Homo sapiens: one gene and its partners. The protein of the gene in region 1 purifies or fractionates together with the protein of each later gene. This does not show direct contact. Each region holds a gene or a part of one and is shown in the gene's direction. Other genes may lie near its edges.

Region 1 (3,500 bases):
AGTGATCCTCAAGGTAGAGCAAGGACAAGAGCCATGGATGGTGGAGGGAGCGAATCCACACGAGAGCTCTCCAGGTGAGTGAGAGAAATTCAGATGGGGCTGTGTGGAGTTGAGATCCCCATTGGTCAGTGAGGGACAGGAAGTTCTGAAATACTCTTAGAAGCACCTCTTAAAAGCCACACACCTTTAACATAACATCATCAGCCAGCTCCCCAAAAGCTGCCTTCACCCTCATTCTCCCCACACGTGCCCTTTCTCTTTGCTCAGCTGTTGTATGGAGGGTTGTCCCTCTCCTGTCTCCTCAGGCTTCTCACACTGCCTGTTTCATCTAGGTCCTTGCTTTGTTTATGTTCTCTTAATTCCTAAAACCCTCATTATTCTTCCCTTCTCAACATCGATCTTTTTCTATATACGTAGTCCTTATAATGAAGTTAAATTATCTGAATTTGAGGCGTTACTCTACCAATCACTGTCTAACCTTAAGCAGATTATTTTGTAGCATAATTTTCTTTATTTATAAAATAGGAACATTAATCCTTACCTCAGGTTTCCTGTAAAGATTATATGAGGTAATACATGCAAAACACTTCAAATAGTTGGCAGATAGTAAATGTTCAGTATATGCTAATTATTTTTTTCAAAACTTTTAGGTACATCATGTTCTATTTTATTTTCCTTTTGTTTTTTCTTTAACTTATTCCTTTTCTTGCATCATAAATCCCATCTTGCATCTTTCTTCTCCCTGATAATTTGGGATATGTCTTGTAGCGCAACTTTCTGTTTCACTTGGTAATATTGATAACTTTTTGAAATTCCCCTCCAGCTTTTTGTTGTCTTACTAATCTGTTCTCACCCTTTCTTACTGCTTATTCACCTTTTGCTCAGGCCTTCTCTTCCATCTTCTTGACTTCTCTCTACAATAACTCCCTCAGAAGCCTCATCACTCTGAAAACTAAAGTTACTTGTTTTATGCCAACTCTAGCATCTTTGCCTCACCAACTTTTCATTCCCATAATTTTACTCTACCTGGCCTTCATGGTAACTAATTTTTTTATTTCTTCAATTGTCACCCTTAGCTTTATATCACAATAAATAATAATGAATGGCCCCCTGCTTTGCAGTCTCAAAACCACTGCATTAAGCAATTTGATTTTTTTCCTGTCAATAGTTTCTCCTTAAATATGATACTAACTTATGGCCTATGATTTCAGCGATTAGTTTATTCAAGACTGATTCAAAATTAAATTTTCCCTTTCTGCAGAGTTCACAAAAGAACTCTTTCAAATGATTGACATATCTTTCAAATGATTGACACCAATTAAATATATTTCAGATTCCCTGGGACCCCAACTTCTGTTGACATAAACCAAATGACTTTTTTTTTAGAGACAGGGTCTTACTCCATCACCCAGGCTGGAGTGCAGTGATGCCATCATAGCTCACTGCAGCCTTGAACTCCTGGCCTCAAGCAAGTCTCCTGCCTCAGCTTCCCAAGCAGCTGGGACCACAGGCACATGCCACAGTCCTCAGCTGAATTTTAATTACTGATATTGTATCTAGACTGTTTATGTTACTGTTTTACAAATTACATTCTATTTTCTAGTTTACATTAGATATTTCTACAAGATTTATCCAAATTATTCTATTTCTGTTGTTGCTCTCCTGAAAAATGTAAATTATCCCCTTTATAACCTGTGTTGTGATATTTAAATGGCTTTTAATGTCCTCTATAACATGGTCCCATTTTACTTACCCAGAATTATCCATCTTTTTTTTATTCCATGGAAATTGGCCTTTTTAATGTCCACTATATACAGTTTTCTTTTTTTTTTTTTTTCGAGACAGAGTCTTGCTCTGTTGCCCAGGCTGGAGTGCAGTTGCGAGATCTGGGCTCACTGCAAGCTCCGCCTCCCGGGTTCACGCCATTCTCCTGCCTCAGCCTCCCGAGTAGCTGGGACTACAGGTGCCCACCACCACACCCAGCTAATTTTTGGTACTTTTAGTAGAGACGGGGTTTCACCACGTTAGCCAGGATGGTCTCGGTCTCCTGACCTCATGATCCTCCCGCCTTGGCCTCCCAAAGTGCTGGGATTACAGGCGTGAGCCACCTCGCCCAGCTTATATACCGTTTTCTTCTCTGCATCAATCCTTCTGATTCTGGTCTGTTCCTAAAACCAGCATTTTCTTAAGTCTGATTTCAGCTTTTCCTCTTTCATTGTAACTCCAGTCTAAATTAATCTTCACTTTCTTTGAACTCCCAAGCCAATTCTATTATGACTCTGTCATGAAAAATTTACATATACTGTCTTGGATATATTTTTTTAATGCATGTGGCTTTTAAGGCCTGTTTTCTTTTTCTTTTTTTTTTTATGATAGTGCCTGAAGAGAATGACCTGTTTTATGCAGAGCACATCATGGTATCCAATGAATATTTTATTAATTTATTGTTATAGAGCCAGACATTGTGGGGGATGTTTCTTTTTTTATTTTTCTTTTTTTTCAGTATCCCTGTCATAGCAATGTGGGAGATGTTTCTTATTCTTCCATTCAACAAGGCTTTTAAAAATGTTACCTGAAAAGGTTCAAAGGAAGCAAAAATCTCATTACCATTTTCTAACTTATGAAAGGTAGTTGGAACAGCAAAACATGTTCATATTAAAATATTTTCCCTGGTGGTTTAGTGGTTAGGAAAACAATATATAAATAAAAAGTAAAAGTTTTGTTTTCTTGTTGTTGTTTGTTTGTCTTTTTTTGAGACAGAGTCTCGCTCTGTCGCCAGGCTGGAGTGCAGTGGCGCAATCTCAGCTCGGGTTCAAGTGATTCTCCTACCTCAGCCTCCCGAAGAGCTGGAACTACAGGCGCCCGCCACCATGCCTGGCTAATTTTTGTATTTTTAGTAGAGACACGGTTTCACCATGTTGGCCAGGATGGTCTTGATCTCTTGACCTTGTGAGCCACCCGCCTTGGCCTCCCAAAGTGCTGGGATTACAGGTGTGAGCCACCGTGCCTGGCCCAAAAATAAAGTATTTTAAAATTCAACAAACGAGTATGAAACATTTCTTCAATGCACATTAACATTGCAGTTTTGTTCTAATTAACTGTCAAAATGACAGACAGCAGCAGTGACTATCTTAGAAATTCATAGAAAATGGAGCTTAAAGTTTAAAGTATGCAAAATTTGGAGAAGTCTTTTTTTTGAGGTCATGGAACAGTGGTTCCTCCCTAAAGAGTATCTAAGTTCTAGATAGGACGAGAGGAGATAAGGGGGGGTGCAAATGAAGGTGGACAACGAACATGAGCAAAAGATTGAATTTAGGAATCTAGAATCCATGGAGTAGAAGGTATTTGTTGAGGACTAGTGAAATGCATGCTTCCCATGAGTGAATTCATATCTTGCATAATTTTGTTTGCCAGGCTGATTATGTTGAATTTTTCAGTGGATTATTGTTGGTAGAGGTAATGCAAGATGCTGCTTCCCATCGGTTGAAATAGAGCGGAAA
Region 2 (3,500 bases), on another chromosome or scaffold:
TAGGGAGGCCATTTCTTATGCAACAAGGAAAGAGTCAAAATTGGAGATTTTGGGTAACCTGGTTGACTGAGAATTGACACTCTATGGGGAAGTATGAAATAACTTTAAAACAAAAACTATCTTAGTTTTTTCTCCTAAGAATAAGGCTATTAGGGAGTTTATTCATTCCCCCCCTTTTTTTAGAGTGTGTGTGTGTGTGTGTGTGTGTGTGTGTGTGTGTATAAAATAGTACATTATTTTATACACACATTAGTACAGGGGTTGGCAAACTGGCCTGCAGACAAAATCTGGCTTATAGCCTATTATATAAAACGGCTTGTAAGCTGTGAGTGGTTTTTACATTTTTAAAGGGCTATTTTTAAAAAAAGCAAAGAAGAATACATGACAGAAACTGGTTGTGACCCACAAGGCCAAAAATTGTTGTCTGGTTTTTTACTGAAAATGTTTGCTGATCCCTGCACTAGAATATTGTAGCTAAAATAGAGTGAGACAGGAAGTAACCCTGAAGTTTGGAATTGTTCCTATTCTTGGCTCAGCCAGGCCTTGTTCTCCTGCTGGGTGTCTGTACCTGGAGCAGTTGCTGTGCAGATTTGATGAGTCAAGGTCACCTTGGACATACAGAGCCCATTTGAGAAAGTATGTGTGATGGTGCTTTGTAAACGGTGAAGCCTGCTAGTGACGTTGGGGCTTTTGGTTGCTGTTATGGCCTGGATGAGTTGGTAGCCCCTGCTGGCTCTAGAGACTTTGGTCTAACCCCCTGAGGTAGGCCTCTGGAGGCTTCGAATGCCAAGGGCATTACGGTTTCTTCTGTTTTGTCAGACACTTGCGCAATGGGGCTGCCATCGCCCGCTGCAGCCAGCCAGAGATCAGCTGGTGGGGCTGGCGCAATGCTGATGATGAGTACCTGGTCACGTCCATTGCTAAAGCCTGTGCCCTGGACCCGGGGACAAGGGCCACTGGGGGCTCCCTCAGCACCGGGAATAATGATACCAGCGAGGCGTGTGATGCTGACTTTGGTAAGGTGTGGATGATGCTAACCCCCCAGGGAGCAGGCCCCCTCCTTGGCTTCATTGGCTCCCAGGGAGTCCCCAGTGAGAGTCTGGGAAGATGACAACACACGGGGTGCTGGGGTCCCTGCCTTGTCAGAAGCTGTGGGGTATGAGGGGTCTCTAGTTGCATGTTCTGCCTTCTGAGAGGGAGTGCCAGAGGGCCAGCAAGAGGTTGGGTGGCTGGCTGACTCAGGGACTCCTTCCTGCTGTGTGTTTAGATTCTTCTCTGACTGCGTGCTCTGGAGTGGAGAGCACAGCAGCTCCTCAAAAGCTGCTGATCCTGGATGCGCGATCCTACACGGCAGCAGTGGCCAACCGGGCCAAGGGTGGAGGCTGTGAATGTGAAGGTATTGCTGTTATCCCAGTGTCTGCAGCCAGCCTGTGCTCTGGGTGGCTTTGGTGAGGAGGGGGTTGGGGGCCATTTGTATAGTGGAAAGAGCCCAAACAAACCTGGCTTGTAATCACAACTTTGCTACCTACTAGCTATGGCTATGACTATGCTGAAGTTGCTTAATCTGTCCAAGCTTTATTTTCTCTTCTATAAGAAGGGGATGTTACACACTTTGCAAAATTGTTGGGATGATTAGAAGTTGCATATGTAGGCTGGGCCCAGTGGCTCATGCCTGTAATCCCAGTACTTTGGGAGGCAGAGGCAGGCGGATGGCTTGAGCTCAGGAGTTTGAGACCAGCCTGGGCAACATGGTGAAACCCTGCCTCTATCAAAAATACAAACCATTAGCTGGGCATGATGGTGCATGCCTGTGGCCCCATCCCAGCCACTTGGGAGGCTGAGGCATGAGAATCGCTTGCATCTGGGACGCAGAGGTTGCAGTGAGCTGATATCATGCCACTGCACCTCTAGCCTGGGTGACCATGAGACCCTGTCTTAAAAAAGAAAAAGAAGTTGTATATATAAAATTATTGCCACAGAGCAGCTACTATTTATTGAGAATTGATTATATATTGTCTTTCTAAGTACTGCTATCATTTGTCATTACTGTTACTATTATTAATATATGGCACCTGAGTCTCCAGAGATACAAGTGTGATTCAGATTTCAAGACTGTATTTAGTTCCTATCCTGGAGTGCTCTGCCCTGCCAGGAAAGCTTTGTCCACCAGGACCACTCTTGTCCTGGATGCCTGTTTCCAGGACGTGCTTTTTTTGTTTGTTTGTTTGTTTTGAGACGGAGTCTCGCTCTGTCGCCCAGGCTGGAGTGCAATGTGCCATCTCAGCTCACTGCAACCTCCATCTCCCAGGTTCAAGCAATTCTCCTGCCTCAGTCTCCCGAGTAGCTGGGATTACAAGTGCCTACCACTATGGCCAGCTAATTTTTATATTTTTAGTAGAGATGGGGTTTCACTGTGTTAGTCAGGCTGTTCTTGAACTCCTGACCTCAGGTGATCCAACCGCTTCAGCCTCCCAAAGTGCTGGGATTACAGGTGTGAGCCACCGCGCCCGGCCTAGGACGTGCTTTTATGTCCCACTCTCCTGTCATGTCTACAGAGTACTATCCCAACTGTGAGGTCGTGTTCATGGGAATGGCCAACATCCATGCCATCCGGAACAGCTTTCAGTACCTCCGGGCTGTGTGTAGCCAGATGCCGGATCCTAGCAAGTAGGTGTTCCCTACTTGGATTCCTTCCAGTCTCATTCCTTACCCAGTACCTCTTATTCTTGGAAGATTAGATGGGGAGATGAGAAGTTTGGAGAGCAGGAGACCTGAGGGCCTGGGTGGAGTTGGGTGCCGTGGGCTAGTTCCAAGAACCCTTCCACTTCTCAGCCAACACTTTGGCGTGGTCACAGGACATGGATTCCTTTCGTTTGGATCAGTTGTTCTACTCAAAGAACACAGAGAACTGGGGAGAGGAAATGGCTGAGTGTGCATGTGATGCTTCTCAGTTCCTCTTTTGAGCTTCAGATGCTTTTATCTGCTGTAGGTCCTGTCTTCCCTACCTTCCTGCTAGATACCTCTTGTCCAAAAGGCCCTGGGTTGTACCTCTTGGTTTCAGTTCTCAATGGGGACTTTGTTGGGTGGGGCTGGCTGTGGATGGTGGAGAGACTGCTGTGGCCTCAGCACCCTTTGTGACCGACTTGATGTCTGCTTTTGTGTAGCTGGTTGTCGGCACTGGAGAGTACCAAATGGCTGCAGCACTTGTCGGTGATGCTAAAAGCAGCTGTGCTGGTGGCTAATACAGTAGACCGGGAAGGCCGGCCTGTGCTGGTACACTGCTCAGATGGCTGGGACCGCACACCGCAGATCGTAGCCCTGGCCAAAATATTACTGGACCCATATTACAGGACGTTGGAGGTATTGAGAGGAATTCGGTGGGAAAACCAGAAGGAATGTGGCAGGAGGGAAGGTGTTGAGCCCTCTGGATCTGTCCTGGGGATCTTTCAGTAGAGGACATTGGTGGCTCTTTTTTTCTTTTTTTTTCCAACTCCCAAAGG
Region 3 (3,500 bases), on another chromosome or scaffold:
GGGGCAGATGCCTGGCTGTGTGAGGGCCCCGGGCGTGCCTCTCCCCTCTGGTTCTCCCTTCCCCTTGGAATCCTTGGGTGGGCGGGAGGCTCCATCCATCAGCTCCCCCAGTCCCCAGCACGCCCCACAACAGAGCACAGTCATGGGAGCTCAGGAGGAGTGGTTGGCACCAGCAGGCCCAGCTGCGATGGTGCGGTGTGAGGCAGGCCTGGGGCCTCTCAGGTGGCTCCGAAGGGAGGGTCCGGCCTCCGCCCTCAGTGATTACTTAGATTCTGCTCCCTCAAAGTGAACTAGAGGCCAGTCACTGGATGAAGAAACAGGGTCAGAAGGTGACACAGGCGGGCCCATTCATTCGCACCTGTCAGCAGAAGCGTACTCCATGGGCAAAAACACAGACATCGACCCAGCCAGGAGGGTCCCCTTCCAGTATGCTGAGGCCAGGAGGGGCCGTGCCCAGGATCGGGGCCCGGGAGGGAGGGGCCGTGCCCAGGATCGGGGCCGGGGAGGGAGGGGCCGTGCCCAGGATCGGGGCCCTGGAGGGAGGGGCCGTGCCCAGGATCGGGGCCCGGGAGGGAGGGGCCGTGCCCAGGATTGGGGCTGCGGAGGGAGATACCGTGCATTCAGTTTGTCACTGAAGCTGTGTCTGAGCGAAGGCCTGAAGGAGCCGCCATGTGGTCGTCTGGGGAGGACACATCCCCTGCTTCTGGACACTCGGAAGTCCTGGTGGGAGCCGGTGGCTGCGGGGCACAGACAACCACACCAGCTGGACCGCTTTGTGCCACCTTGGGAACTTCATGTTGGGCACTAATTTTAGGATTCTCCCTGTTTCAGCCACGGATGACATCGTGAAGGTTGAAGTCTGGGATGTAGTAGACAAAGGTGAGGCGTCTCTGTTCTGTGTCTGCTTCTCTCTGGGACTGTGTGCTCTGCGCAGAGAGGCTTCCTTTCTTTCCCCCGGCGCCCATGCATCACCCACCATCCTCGTGGACGGTGCCCAGGGTCTTGCTGCTCTGCTCCCCTCCACATCCAGTGGCGACCCCGCAGCGTGGCGCAGCCCCTCCTGTGGCACTGCATGCTTTGCTGCTTTAGCATACTCCCCGTCTCTGAGTGACCGCGTGCACGGTGGCGGCAGGTGCAGCCGGGGGGTGTGCTTTGAGCCCCAAGGCCCAGGGTGCTATTTTGGGAGCCCTCCTCCTGCACTGCCTGGCGGAGTAGCCCAGCACCAGGCGGCCCCCTGCCCATAGCTGAGGACCCAGCTCCTGCGCTCCTGTCCCTGCCAGGGATCCCCAGCCACACAGACCTGCACTCTGGGGACCGTGGGAGGGCAGCACCAGCCCCCGGGGTGTCCTCGACATCGTTGGTCTCCTCCTCAGCCACAAGGTCATGAGTTCCTCTAAGTCCTCAGGGTGGAGCTCATGGCCCTCCCCGGGGCCCATGGTCCGTGTGCATGTGTGGTGTGTGCAGGGCTGGCCACGTGCACGCCCCGGCCTCACAGGCCTGGCTGTGGCCTCGTTACGAGGCTCTGCTGGAAAGGCGGCCGCCGCCTCTGTGTGATGGTGTCTGTTCGGATGGCGCATGCTCCCCTCCCTCCACCTGTGCTTTGTTGGGGTGGGTTTGGCCATGGGGGGTTAGAGGCAGGTGCTCATGCAGTTCCCGCAGGGGTGCTGGGCCCCTGCGGCTCCCACCACATTGCGCTGGACTCTTGTGGCCCGTGCTGACCTGGTGTTCCAGATGCTGTCTCTGCAGAGCTCTGCGTGGTCTCTGGTGTTAGAGAGGTGGCCACCCACCGCCCTATCATTGTCCTCATCCCCACTGTGAGGAGAAGCTATCAGATCTGCCTGTGGCCCCCAGGTGGCTCAGGAAGGGCCGTCCTGACCCCCATCCTGGCCCCTTTCGGAGCTGCAGAGATTTCCTGTGCCTCCAGCTCTGGCTTCCTGGGTCTGTCCTTGGCGTGGAGCGGGCACAGGCTTCCCGTAGACACGGTTGCCCAGAGTGGGGTTCATAACTGGGCACTGTAAAGGGTGTGGTCTCCACGGCTTAGGATGGGCCCCCCCTTCCTGGTGGCCTGCTGTGCCCGGGGCTGGTGTGGAGGCCTGTGGGTGCAGAGGCCGCCTGGCCCTGGGCTTCCTCTGGGGTTACATGTGTACCCTTGCACCCACCTGTTAGCACCCACCGGGAGAGTCTCACTCAGCCTAAACCAGGGCCCCTCAGGAGGAAAAGGTCCCCAGCTTCATGATGGGGCCCAGTGTGCCTTCCATCCCCGCCCTGACTCAGTGCCCACTGTGCGAGGTGTGAGCACTGTCCACAGCAGCCAGGGCGGCCGGTGGGGAGTGCATTGGAGGGGGTTGAGGTCTCTTGGGCACCTGGTGAGTTCTCAAGGGTGAGAGGAAGCCGAGGCCATCAGGCTTAGCTGACGCTGCATGGGGCAGGCTGCCAAGAGGGAGGCTGAATGGAGCAGCCTCAGGTGAGCCGACAATCCTCACCTCCGCCTGGTCAGCCAGGACCCGGCTCCCCTCCAGTCCCGCCTGCTTTCCCCAAAGCAGATCCAGCCAGTCTCAATGGCTCGCCCGGGGGGTGCTGGTTAGGCTGTGAGCATCCTTCCTGGGTGCAGGCCCCCGACAGCCAGCAGTGCTGTGCTGTGTGTGTGTTGGGGACTCTGCTGAGCCCTTTGTGGCCAGACTGGGGAGGCTCCTCCGGGCTGGCTCTGTCCCCTGTACCTTGTGAGGGAGGGGCTGACCCCCTGACTGGGTTACATCGTGGTGAGCAGTTCAGAAACAAGCTGTGGAATGAAGTGGACGTGGCGTTTTAAACACATGAGCCCCATCTGTTCTTAGGGGTTTTGTTTGTTGTCCCAGTCCGTGACTCCAAGACTGGGACCCCCAGAGTTCCCAGGATGGTCTGGAGCCTTTATCCTCAGGTCAGCATTGTGGAGTTAAAGGGAGGGGACCACGGCCCCTCATTCTCAGGAGAGCCATGGTGACCTTGATGGCGGAGGCTCAGGGGGACCTGGACCGTGGACACCACACAGCTGCCCTCCTCCCTCCCGAGGCCATTTCAGGGCTGGAATCCCTGCCCCCCTCTCCTTTCCTCCCGGGCTGGTTGTTGCCTTGAGAGTCCGTGCGCTCATCTCCCCACTTTTACCCCAGGGGGAGGCCCCTCACCTTCCCACCATATCCCTTGTACTTCCTCCCACCCTGGACTTGGGGGAGCTGGGGGGAGGGGGCCCTTCCTTCAGCAGCAAACCCTCCTGGTGTAGGGCTGTAGGCCATCCCACCGCAGCCTGTCCAGGAGCTGCTGAGCCTGTCAGCCCCAACTAGCACCTCCTGTCCAGGCCCGGCCCAGCCCTGCCTCCAGAGCCTACAGAGGGGCCTCGCCCAGGTCCTGCTGCTCCAGAGCTTGTGGGTGCCCACGCTGCAGGCTGTTTGGGGTGGTGGAGTAGAGCACCCGCTGGAGCTGGGGGCTGAGTGGCCATGGGGGGACCATGCTCCTCCTATGGCCCA
Region 4 (3,500 bases), about 68 Mb from region 1:
CCACCTTATTCTGGAAATGTAGAAGCAGATGCGTTCTCATACGTACACTCTGTAATTTGAGCCTTACAGCTACGTACAGGGTGGAACAGAACCTAGATAAGGAAACAGATGGAACCAAAAATACTTAAGATGGAAATGCTGGAAAATATTTAGTTTCTGATTTTTTTTTTTTTTTGAGACAGAGTCTTGCTCTGTCACCCAGGCTGGAGTGCAGTGGCGCAATCTCCGCTCACTGCAAGCTCCGCCTCCCAGGTTTACACCATTCTCCTGCCTCAGCCTCCTGAGTAGCTGGGACTACAGGCACCCGCCACCATGCCCGGCTAATTTTTTGTATTTTCAGTAGAGACAGGGTTTCACCGTGTTAGCCAGGATGGTCTTGATCTCCTGACCTCGTGATCCGCCTGCCTCATGCCTCCCAAAGTGCTGGGATTATAGGCATGAGCCACCGCGCCCGGCCACGTCTGGCTAATATTTTTGTGTTTTCAGTAGAGACAGGATTTCACCATGTTAGCCAGGCTGGTCTCAAACTCCTGACCTCAAGTGATCTGACCGCCTCGGCCTCCCAAAGTGCTGGGATTACAGGTGTGAGCCACCATGTCCCACCTTGTATTTACTGTTTATAAAAGAAAAAGGAATTTTATTTGTATCAACTGGCTAATTAATGCAAAATTTGTTTAGTGATTTTGCTAAGCTGAACTCACACTAATAAAGGTAGTTATAAATATGTAATTTATGGAAACCCATTATTTTGTTGCTCTTTGAGATCCTTCTTGTTTTTCTTGTTTGCACTAATACAGATTTTAGGCTATCTGAAAACTGTCAGGAAATGAAAAGTCATGCAGTGAATCATAAAATGAAGATGCACAGTTGATCCTCATTCTTCACAGATTCCGTATTTATGAATTGACCTCATTAAGTCTGTGTAACCCCAAAGTCAATAATCGAGGTGTTCTGTGGTTACTCTGGGACACAGTGAAGAGTGGTAAAAAATTTGGGTTGCCTGTTGCAGGCATTCCCAGCTGAGATGGAACAAGGCAATCAAAACTGTTTTCTTGTTTCAGCTCTCGTACTGCAAACAAGTGTCTTTTTTTGTGGTCTATTTAGTGGTATATTTTTTCGTGCTTTTTTGAGGGGAGAGGGGTGATTTTTTTTATTTTTATTTTGAGACCAATCATTAAACAGCATCATTTCGTTGTTTAAAACGGCCCTCTGATGTAGTGCTGAGCTGAGGTCTAGTGTTTCTAAGTGCAAGAAGGCCACGATGTACTTACAGAGAAAAGGAAAAGGTGTGTATTAGATAGGCTTCAGTCAAGCGTAAGGTATAGGACAGTTGTCCATGTGTTCAGTGTTAGTGAATGAACAATATGTATTTTAAATAAGGTGTCCTTAAACAGGAATGTACAGAAACACACATAAAACAAGGTTATATATTGATCAATTGATAAAAATGTTATGACAGGTTTGCACGAACCAAACCCTGTATTTATTATAGGAGTAATGGTTCAGTACTTGCTAATTGGTGTTTGAGGTGACTTTATAGAAGATAACTACTGTGAGGCCGGGTGCAGTGGCTCACGCCTGTAATCCCAGCACTTTGGGAGGCCATGGCGGGCGGATCATGAGGTCAGGAGATCGAGACCATCCTGGCTAATGCGGTGAAACCCCGTCTCTACTAAAAATAGAAAAAATTAGCCAGGCGTAGTGGCGGGCACCTGTAGTCCCAGCTACATGGGAGGCTGAGGCAGGAGAATGGCGTGAACCCAGGAGGTGGAGCTTGCAGTGAGCAGAGATTGCGTCACTGCACTCCAGCCTGGGCGACAGAGTGAGACTCCATCTAAAAAAAAAAAAAGACGATAACTACTGCGAATAGCAAGAATCAACTGTATTTTAGTGAAATTTACAGTATCTTTTTTACATAGAGTTCTAGAATTTTTAAATGTTTTTCATGTATATTATCTTTGGTTTTCATGTTGGCCTGTGAAGACAGGTGGATATTATTATTATTTTTTTTTTTTAGAGACAGGGTCTTACTCTGTCTCCCATGCTGGAGTGCAGTGGTATGCTCATAGCTTACTGCAGCCTCGAATCCGGGGCACAGACAATTCTTCTGCCTCAGCCTGCTGAGTAGGCAGGAGCCAGGTGCACACCACTGCACACAGCTAATGGTTAGAATTTTTTGTAGAGATGGGGTCTCGCTTTGTTGCCCAGGCTGGTCTTGAAGTCCTGGCTTCAAGCTATCCTCCCACCTTGGCCTGTCAAAGCACTAGGATTATAGGTGTGAGCTACCTTGCCCAGGCTATTATTCTTATACATATGAAATACTGCAAACTAATATTTAGTTCCAAATTGGCTTTTGTCTTAAAATGGTTCACCAAGTAGTAATAAAATTCTCTTTCTATTGTTTGTTTTTTGGTAAATTTAATTTAGCCTGATGAAAACAAAGGCGATATGCATTATGATGCTGAGATTATCCTTAAAAGAGAAACTTTGTTAGAAATACAGAAGTTTCTCAATGGAGAAGACTGGAAACCAGGTGCCTTGGATGATGCACTAAGTGATATTTTAATTAATTTTAAGTTTCATGATTTTGAAACATGGAAGTGGCGATTCGAAGATTCCTTTGGAGTGGATCCATATAATGTGTTAATGGTAAGATGGGATGAGGGCAAGGGCAACGTCATTAAGTTTCCTTTTTAAAATACTTTCCAAACTCCACCATAATTACGTTAAGAACCTGTACTAGGTCACTTATACCGTATTGATGAACAAGCCACAAAATTGTAGAAATGATTTTGTGCTTTTGAGTCCAGTTCTTTTTAGCTGTCTTAAGTGTTTTTGGTGGCTGATTTCTGCTTCTCTCTGTTTTAAGGTACTTCTTTGTCTGCTCTGCATCGTGGTTTTAGTGGCTACTGAGCTGTGGACATATGTACGTTGGTACACTCAGTTGAGACGTGTTTTAATCATCAGCTTTCTGTTCAGTTTGGGATGGAATTGGATGTATTTATATAAGGTATTATATGGATGGAGGGTTTTACAATTTTAACACATTTATTCACAATGAAAGAAGACTCTAATCCATTGAGAGCAATCTTGCCTTGGATGTGGGTTGGAGGCAGTGATTAGAGGTGGCCCACGCTGGAGAGGAATTAAATGGACACTTCTTAGCTGACAGTTTTTTGATTCCTTGACCAGTTAGTGGGTAAAAAAGTTCAGTCCTAATTTTCATAACCCAGTTAATGTTAACATTTGGGCATCTAAGTCAGAATAAAGCCAGGTGGGTTGGGTGTGGTGGCTCATGCCTGTAATCCCAGCATTTTGGGAGGCTGAGGTGGGCAGATCACTTGGTCAGGAGGTCAAGACTAGCCTGGCCAACATGGTGAAACCCTGTCTCTACTAAAAATACAAAAATTAGCTGGGCCTGGTGACGTGCACCTGTAGTCCCAGCTACTCAGCAGGCTGAGGCAGGAGAATTGCTTGAACCTGAGAGGTTGCAGTGAGCC

Evidence for each region.
Region 2: the proteins of ZNF684 (region 1) and MTMR4 purify together in Homo sapiens (affinity purification with mass spectrometry; 2 studies listed by BioGRID and IntAct, with this or other methods). This does not show direct contact.
Region 3: the proteins of ZNF684 (region 1) and RABL6 purify together in Homo sapiens (affinity purification with mass spectrometry, with the first as the bait; one large-scale study listed by BioGRID). This does not show direct contact.
Region 4: the proteins of ZNF684 (region 1) and CLCC1 purify together in Homo sapiens (affinity purification with mass spectrometry; one large-scale study listed by BioGRID and IntAct). This does not show direct contact.

What each region holds. Positions count from the first base shown.
Region 1 is NC_000001.11:40,541,637-40,545,136, forward strand, and holds part of ZNF684 (zinc finger protein 684), read left to right. Parts: coding exon 1-74; intron 75-3,500. UniProt on the Homo sapiens protein: May be involved in transcriptional regulation.
Region 2 is NC_000017.11:58,504,639-58,508,138, reverse strand, and holds part of MTMR4 (phosphatidylinositol-3,5-bisphosphate 3-phosphatase MTMR4), read left to right. Parts: intron 1-819; coding exon 820-1,016; intron 1,017-1,267; coding exon 1,268-1,396; intron 1,397-2,555; coding exon 2,556-2,667; intron 2,668-3,164; coding exon 3,165-3,360; intron 3,361-3,500. UniProt on the Homo sapiens protein: Lipid phosphatase that specifically dephosphorylates the D-3 position of phosphatidylinositol 3-phosphate and phosphatidylinositol 3,5-bisphosphate, generating phosphatidylinositol and phosphatidylinositol 5-phosphate.
Region 3 is NC_000009.12:136,824,948-136,828,447, forward strand, and holds part of RABL6 (rab-like protein 6), read left to right. Parts: intron 1-831; coding exon 832-879; intron 880-3,500. UniProt on the Homo sapiens protein: May enhance cellular proliferation. May reduce growth inhibitory activity of CDKN2A.
Region 4 is NC_000001.11:108,942,985-108,946,484, reverse strand, and holds part of CLCC1 (chloride channel CLIC-like protein 1 isoform 1 precursor), read left to right. Parts: intron 1-2,427; coding exon 2,428-2,649; intron 2,650-2,869; coding exon 2,870-3,010; intron 3,011-3,500. UniProt on the Homo sapiens protein: Anion-selective channel with Ca(2+)-dependent and voltage-independent gating. Permeable to small monovalent anions with selectivity for bromide > chloride > nitrate > fluoride.